2 linked regions of the Homo sapiens genome follow. The protein of the gene in region 1 purifies or fractionates together with the protein of each later gene. This does not show direct contact. Each region holds a gene or a part of one and is shown on either strand. Other genes may lie near its edges.

What was found. Proteins that work in one complex are often made in the same cells at the same time.
Region 2: the proteins of MRPL45 (region 1) and ZC3H4 fractionate together in Homo sapiens (co-fractionation; one large-scale study listed by BioGRID). This does not show direct contact.

What each region holds. Positions count from the first base shown.
Region 1 is NC_000017.11:38,303,553-38,307,200, reverse strand, and holds part of MRPL45 (large ribosomal subunit protein mL45), read right to left. Parts: intron 669-3,648; coding exon 570-668; intron 1-569.
Region 2 is NC_000019.10:47,093,150-47,096,797, reverse strand, and holds part of ZC3H4 (zinc finger CCCH domain-containing protein 4), read left to right. Parts: intron 1-2,189; coding exon 2,190-2,409; intron 2,410-2,717; coding exon 2,718-2,828; intron 2,829-3,648. UniProt on the Homo sapiens protein: RNA-binding protein that suppresses transcription of long non-coding RNAs (lncRNAs). LncRNAs are defined as transcripts more than 200 nucleotides that are not translated into protein.

The DNA of each region.
Region 1 (3,648 bases):
TTAGCTGGATGTGGTGGCGTGCACCTGTAATCCCAGCTACTTGGGAGGCTGAGGCAGGGGAGTTGCTTGAACCAGGGACGTGGAGGTTGCAGAGAGCCAAGATTGCGCCATTGCACTCCCAGCCTGGGCGACAGAGCGAGACTCCATCTCAAAATAAAAAATAAAAAAATAAAAGTGGAGGGAGAGCTGGAAATTTTCACAAGAAATATATTCAAAATAACCAAGGAAAGGGAAATGAAGATACGTAAGACAAACACACAAAAAAGATCAGAATGAATTCAGGGATCAGATAGGGTGAAAAAGGCAGCTATTCTGGCACAAGGTCCCAACACTTGCAGGTGGAACTGAGACAGACCAAATGGTAGAAATTCCCAGAAGCAGAGAGGGGAGTGAAAGACAGCGTCAGTCACTAATTACTTCCAATATAGGAAGTTCTCTCACTCTAGATCTCTTACCTGAAGGCAGAAAACAAATTTGTGCAAAACAAAAACAAACAAACAAAAAAACTGTGCCTAAAATAATAGCTAACTGCTGAGAACAGAATGGGTAAAGATAGGGAGTTCACTTACTTATTTAGACAAAGGTGAGCTTCAATAAAGATATCCTTAGCTTTTTCAGGGAAGTCCTTTATTTTAAAGTTGGCATCATAGTCTTTTATCCTCCGGATTCTGTAAAATTAAGCCTGAGTATTACTTCTAAAGGTCTTACAATTCCATAATTCACAGCCTACACTGACCTCCATTCATGTCCATCCACTTACTCAATAACTGTTTAGCTTTTTTTTTTTTTTCTTTTTTTGAGTCTCGCTCTGTCACCCAGGCTGGAGTGCAGTGGCATGATCTCGGCTCACTGCAAGCTCTGCCTCCCAGGTTCACGCCATTCTCCTGCCTCAGCCTCCTGAGTAGCTGGCACTACAGGCGCCCGCGACCACACGCGGCTAAATTTTTGTATTTTTAGTAGAGACGGGGTTTCACCGTGTTAGCCAGGATGGTCTCGATCTCCTGACCTCAGGATCCGCCCGCCTCGGCCTCCCAAAGTCCTGGGATTACAGGCGTGAGCTACCACGCCCGGCCAATAATTGATTTTTTAATGTGTCAAGTCCTGGAAATTCAACCTTCTCCCTCTTAAATTAAGCACTCTAAAGAAAGACTAAGACTTCTCATAGTGAAATTTCAGAATTCTAGAATCAAAGATAACATCTGATATGCACTAAAAACAGAAAAAACGGGTTTCTTACAAATGCTCAAGAGTCAAAATAGGCCAGGCGCGGTGGCTCACGTCTGTAATCCCAGCACTTTGGGAGGCCGAGGCAGGTAGATCACTTGAGGTCAGGAGTTTGAGACCAGCCTAGCCAACAGGGTGAAACCCCATCTATACTAAAAATCCAAAAATAAGCTGGGCATGGTGGTGCACACCAGTAATCCCAGCTACTCCGGAGGCTGAGGCACAAGAATCGCTTGAACCCAGGAGGCAGAGGTTGCAGTGAGCAGAGATCGCACCACCGCATTCCAGCCTGGGTCACAGAGCGAGACTCCATCTCAAAAAAAAAAAAGCTGGGCATGGTGGTGCTGTCTGTAATCCCAGCTACTTGGGAGGCTGAGGCAGGAGAATACTTGAACTTAGGAGGCAGAGGTAGTGATCGCGCCACTGCACTCCAGCCTGGGAAACAGAGCGAGACTCCATCTCAAAAAAAAGAGTCAGAATAACACTGGGCTTCTTTTTTTTTTTTTTTGAGACAGAGTCTCGCACTCCGTCGCACAGGCTGGAGTACAGTGGCGCAATCTCGGCTCACTGCAACCTCTGCCTCCTGGGTTCAAGCAATTCTCCTGCCTCAGCCTCCCAAGTAGCTGGGACTACAGGCACACATCACCCCGCCCGCCTAATTTTTGTATTTTTAGTAGAGATGGGGTTTCACCATGCTGACCAGGCTGGTCTCGAACTCCTGTCCTTGTGATCTGCCTGCCTCGGCCTCCCAAAGTGCTGGGATTACAGGCCTGAGCCATGGCACCTGGCAACACTGGGCTTCCTAACAGCAACATTAGAAGTTACAAAGACAGGCCGGGTGCAGTGGCTCACGCCTGTAATCCCAGCACTTTGGGAGGCCAAAGCAGGCAGATCATGAGGTCAGGAGCTCGAGATCATCCTGGCCAACATGGTGAAACCCCGTCTCCACTAAAATACAAAAAATTAGCCAAGCGTGATGGCACGTGCCTGTAGTTCCAGCTACTCGGGAGACTGAGGCAGAAGAATCACTTGAACCCAGGAGGCAGAGGTTGCAGTGAGCTGAGATCCTGCCACTGCACTCCAGCCTGGGTGACAGAGCGAGACTTCGTCTCAAAAAAAAAAAAAAGGAAGTTACGGCCGGGCGCAGTGACTCAGGTCTGTAATCCCAGCACTTTGGGAGGCCAAGGTGGGCTGATCACAAGGTCAGGAGTTCGAGACTGGCCTGGCCAATATGGTGAAACCCTGTCTTTACTAAAAATACAAAAATTAGCTGGGCGTGGTGGCAGGCGCCCGTAGTCCCAGCTACTCAGGAGACTGAGGCAGGAAAATTGTTTGAACCCAAGAGGCAGAGGTTGTAGTAAGTCAAGATCGCGCCACTGCAATCCAGCCTGGGCGAAAGAGTGAGACTCCGTCTCAAAAAAAAAATAAAATAAAAAGTAATTACAAAGACAACAGAGCAGTGCTTTTATTATTCATTCACTCATTCATTCATTCATTCACTGAGACAGGGTCTCACTCTGTCACCCAGGCTAGAGTACAGTGACGCCATCAGGGCTCACTGCAGCCTTGACCTCTGGGACTCATGCAATCCTCCCACTTCAGACTCCCAAGTAACTGGAACTGCAGGTGTGCACTACCACGCTTGGCTAATTTTCACTTTTTTTTAGTTTTTGTAGAGACAAGGTCTCACTGTGTTGCCCAGCTGGTATTCAACTCCTGCTCAAGTGATCCTCCTGCCTCAGCCTCCCAAAGTGTTGAGATTACAGGCATGACCCACCATGCCCAGACTTTGAGCAGTACTTTTAATTGAGGAAAAAATTATTTCTATCACAGAATTAAATACCTGGGCAAATTATAAATGAAGTGGGAGAATAAAATATTTCTTTTTAGACTTGCAAGATCTTATTTATCCACCATGCAGCCTTTCTCAGGCAGCTGCTAGAAAATGTGCTCCACCAAAGTAATGAAATAGACTATGAAAACATAAAGACATAGGATCCAAGCAACAGGGAATACAACGTAAGAGGGAGGCAATCAGCCTGACCAACATGGTGAAACCCCATTTCTACTAAAAATACAAAAATTAGCTGGGCGTGGTGGCGCACACCTGTAATCCCAGCTACTCAGGAGACTGAGGCAGGAGAATCGCTTGAACCCGGGAGGCGGAAGTTGCAGTGAGCTGAGATCGCACCACTGCACTCCAGCCTGGGCAACAGAGCAAGACTCAGTCTCAAAAAAAAAAGAAAAGAAGACGGAGGCAAGAGGAATCTTAGATCCTAAGACGTACAGTTGGCCTTAAGAGCAACTAGTCCAGATTAAAACAGGTAAGAAGACTCCAGGAGGGATTTCTTGAAAAAGATGAAATTAATAAAATATTTAATGTTGCAGGGCGTGGTGGCTCACACCTGTAATCCTAGCACTTTG
Region 2 (3,648 bases), on another chromosome or scaffold:
AAGCAACCTGGCACAGATATGGCATTTAAAATATTAGTGGCCTGGGTGGTGATCATGTCCCTCTCAGCTTTATCCCTTCTAGACTTAAGTGTCGAGAGTAATGTTGTTCTTAGCTTTTCTTTATGGAACCCCAGCATGTATACCTCCAGTCTGTCCCGGGCCTTCTCCCGCTCAGTCTGTCCGTCTCTCCCTTTCTCTTGAGGTGTGGCCCTGGCCTGCCCCCAGTATTCCCATCAGGGTGCCACCTCCCAGTGTCTGCACAGCTCCTGGCGGCGGGCAGTTTGCCATGTCACTGAGTAACAGCTTCTCCCTTGGGACAAAACCAGTTTTCCCAGTCATGTGGCCCTTTTCGGTGTGGGTGAGGTGTCCAGTGAGGACTTTGCTCCACGCCTGGTTTCTGTGGGCCGCACCCCAGCGGGAAGGCACCTCCCTTGTCAGGACTGCAGCCTGCACCCCCGCCCCATTCCAAGTTTGCTAGTCGGGGAAGCAACACAAGGTGCACATGGGTCAGGTCACCTGTGTTGTTGACTTTGAAGCAGCAGAAAGAGTTTTGTGTCCTGCATTCTGTTTTGAGAGTTGCCCTTGACCTCTGCCCAGGGGTATCTGTGGGGCTGGGCCACTTGGGTTTGAAATAGAACCCATCCCCTTTGAACTGGGAGTGAGAGTTCATAGAAAAAGCTGCTCTTGAGGCGCTCCTTGATGTTTGGGTAGCAGCCCCAAGGCAGACAAAGGGAGGGACATAAGCGAAAGGACAGTGGAGGGTCCTGGGAGGAGGAGTCTGCCACATGCCCTGGAACCTTCAGGCAAGCACGCCTAATACATTGGCTCCCGCTTGGGCAGCTGCGGGCCTTTCCGCAGAGATAGCTCCATTTGTGGCTAACCTTTTGGGGCCTGGGCTCGTGATGTTTCCTCCTTACATCACTTCTCTTTGTGTCCTAGTTAATTGAGACGGAAGGAGTTGGATGCTCTCACGCAAGCCTTTTTGTGGTCATTCATGGGGAACTTTGGGAGCTTTTTAAAATTATTCAAAAAGATTGTTTTTTTCCTTTACCAACTCCTGTACTTGTGAACACTGTGTCTGTGGGTTTGGCTCAAAAACTGGATTCTTTTTCCAGCCTCCCCCTCCTGAACCCAATTTCTTCCTCACTCCTACCCCACCCCATAGATATTTACATATGCAGAATGTCCACTGGGCAGTGTCTGTCATGTTTGGAGAGCACTTTTAAAGTCCTGGAGATTGGGGTGACACGGGGGAATTGGAAGAGTGTAGGATGGGGAGCCAGAAGGGGTTCCACTATCTGGAGGTGAGTCAGAGGAGGGAGAGAAAGCAGGGCCGGTATCATGTGAGGCCCTCAGGAGGGGCCTGGGATCCGTCCCCCCTCCTCCAGCTGCTCAGTGTTTGCTTGCCTCCGGCCTAGAGGTGTGGGACTGACGAGGGTGGGTCAGACCTTGTGACCTGGGACTCTGAGCCTGTTTCCAGCGGTTCTCATGGGGCTTTTGTAATAAAGTACTTGGAGGGTTCTCAGGCCACAGCCCAGGCCTGCCTGTGGGTGGGTCCCAGGTAGCTTGGGGCCACCCCTGGTTCAGAACCAAGGCCCTCTCCACGGTGCACAGCCACCGCCCTCAGCCTCAGGTGGCACTGACGCCCAGCTCACTGGGGCCCGGGGCCCAGCAGGCAATCCTGGGCCTGGGAGGGAGGGGATGTGGGTCTGTGCTCCCTGGGAGAGAGACTTCTGTGGTCAAGCAAGGTTTAGAAGTGCCCCAAGTGCTTCACAGCAGAGCTGTGTGGGTTTCTGGACTATGGGGCTTCCTGGAAGTTGTGCAGCGTTAAGCATTATGAATCCCCAAGATGGGGCTCTTCCTGCTTATGTGACCACAGCACCTTGTCGGTTTCTTCTTCTAAGAACACTAGTTCTGTTGGGAAATCTGGCGTAGATGTGTCCCGGTGTTAGTGGTAATGCCCTTAAACTCCTACCCCTCCCCCAGCCAGGTTAGACTGGAGCAAGCACAGTTCTTTCAGGGGGAGGATAAGGGATGGAACAAGAGGCCATGGCCCCCATGTCCTCCCAGGGTCTCACTTCGCTCACAGCAGTCAGGCCTTCGGTTCCTGTCAGCCTTGGCCAGCCCAGAGCCCTAGGAGGTCTCCTCTCAAACCCTGTGTTCATGGTGGGATTGGGGTTTGTTTGTAGGGAAGATGGAGAGTTGGAAGAAGGTGAATTGGAAGATGATGGGGCAGAGGAGACCCAGGATACCTCCGGAGGGCCTGAGAGAAGCCGGAAAGAAAAGGGGGAGAAGCATCACAGTGATTCGGATGAGGAGAAGTCCCACAGGAGACTGAAGCGGAAACGGAAGAAAGAGCGGGAGAAAGAGAAAAGGAGGTCGAAGAAGAGGAGGAAATCCAAGCACAAAGTAGGTCGGAGATCCCCTGGGACTGCCACTGCCTGGCATTGGGCCTGGCTGAGAGCCCCAGGGGCTGAGCTTTTGCTGTCCACCCCAGAGGGCACTCTTAATGCCTTTGCTTATCTCAAATTGGATAAAGACCTTTTTTAAAAGAGTTGGTAGCTTATGCTTCATTGCCACTAAGTGCCCCAGGTGAGGTGTTTCAGGTGAAGCGCAGAGCCCTGCGGCACATGCCAGCATAGTTTGTCCTGAGGCTGACTGTGCCCGAGTGGCCTGCCTGTGGCAGGTTGCTGAGTCTCCTTCCCCTGTCATTACAGCGCCATGCTTCTTCTAGCGATGACTTCTCTGACTTCTCAGATGACTCGGATTTCAGCCCCAGTGAGAAAGGTCACCGCAAGTACAGAGAGTACAGCCCCCCATATGCGCCGGTGAGTGACTGGCATGCACTGCTGAGCTCTGGGGCCGGGAGGAGTTCAACTGCTTGTGTTTCTTGAGCACTTGCTGTGTTCTGGGCATTTTTTGTGAGTTTCAGTCCTGGGCCATCAGGTATTAATTTAATCCCCATTTTATGAGTGAGGAAACTGAAACTTAGACAATTTCAACAAGGCAGCCCAGACAACCAAGTGAGACCCCACAAAAAATAAAAAAATTAACCAGGCATGCCTGTAGTTCCAGCTACTCAGGAGGCAGAGGTGAGAAGATCCCTTGAGCCCAGAAGTTTAAGGTTGCAGTGAGCTATGATCAGCCACTGTACTCTAGCCTGGGTGACAGACAGAGCAAGATCCTGTCTCAAAAGGAAAAGAAAATTTCAACAGGGTTGCCCAGCTCTCTGAAGTAAAGGAGCTGGGATTTGAACCCAGGCCCTAGCTGACCTCCATGAGGCATGTTCTCGAGCCTCCTCCATGCGGCCTTAGCAAGGCCCTGTATGTCTCAGAGAAAGATGCTGACTGGTCCACGTCACGGCTGACTGGCTTCCACTGTTCACAAATGACCTTTTTGGGAAATTGGCAAGAGAATGAAATGTTCTCAAGTAGCCAGTAGGCAGAGGTTAGATACTCAGCCACTGTCGCTCTCATTTCAAGCAGCAATTTAAATTATTTGTTCAGTTTGTATACCATTTCTTCCCCCAGAAAATCCCATAAGAGAAAAGCAAATCATTTTTTTTTTTTTTTTTTTTTTTTTGAGGCAGAGTCTCACTCTGTCGCCCAGGCTGGAGTACAGTGGTGCAATCTCAGCTCACTGCAAGCT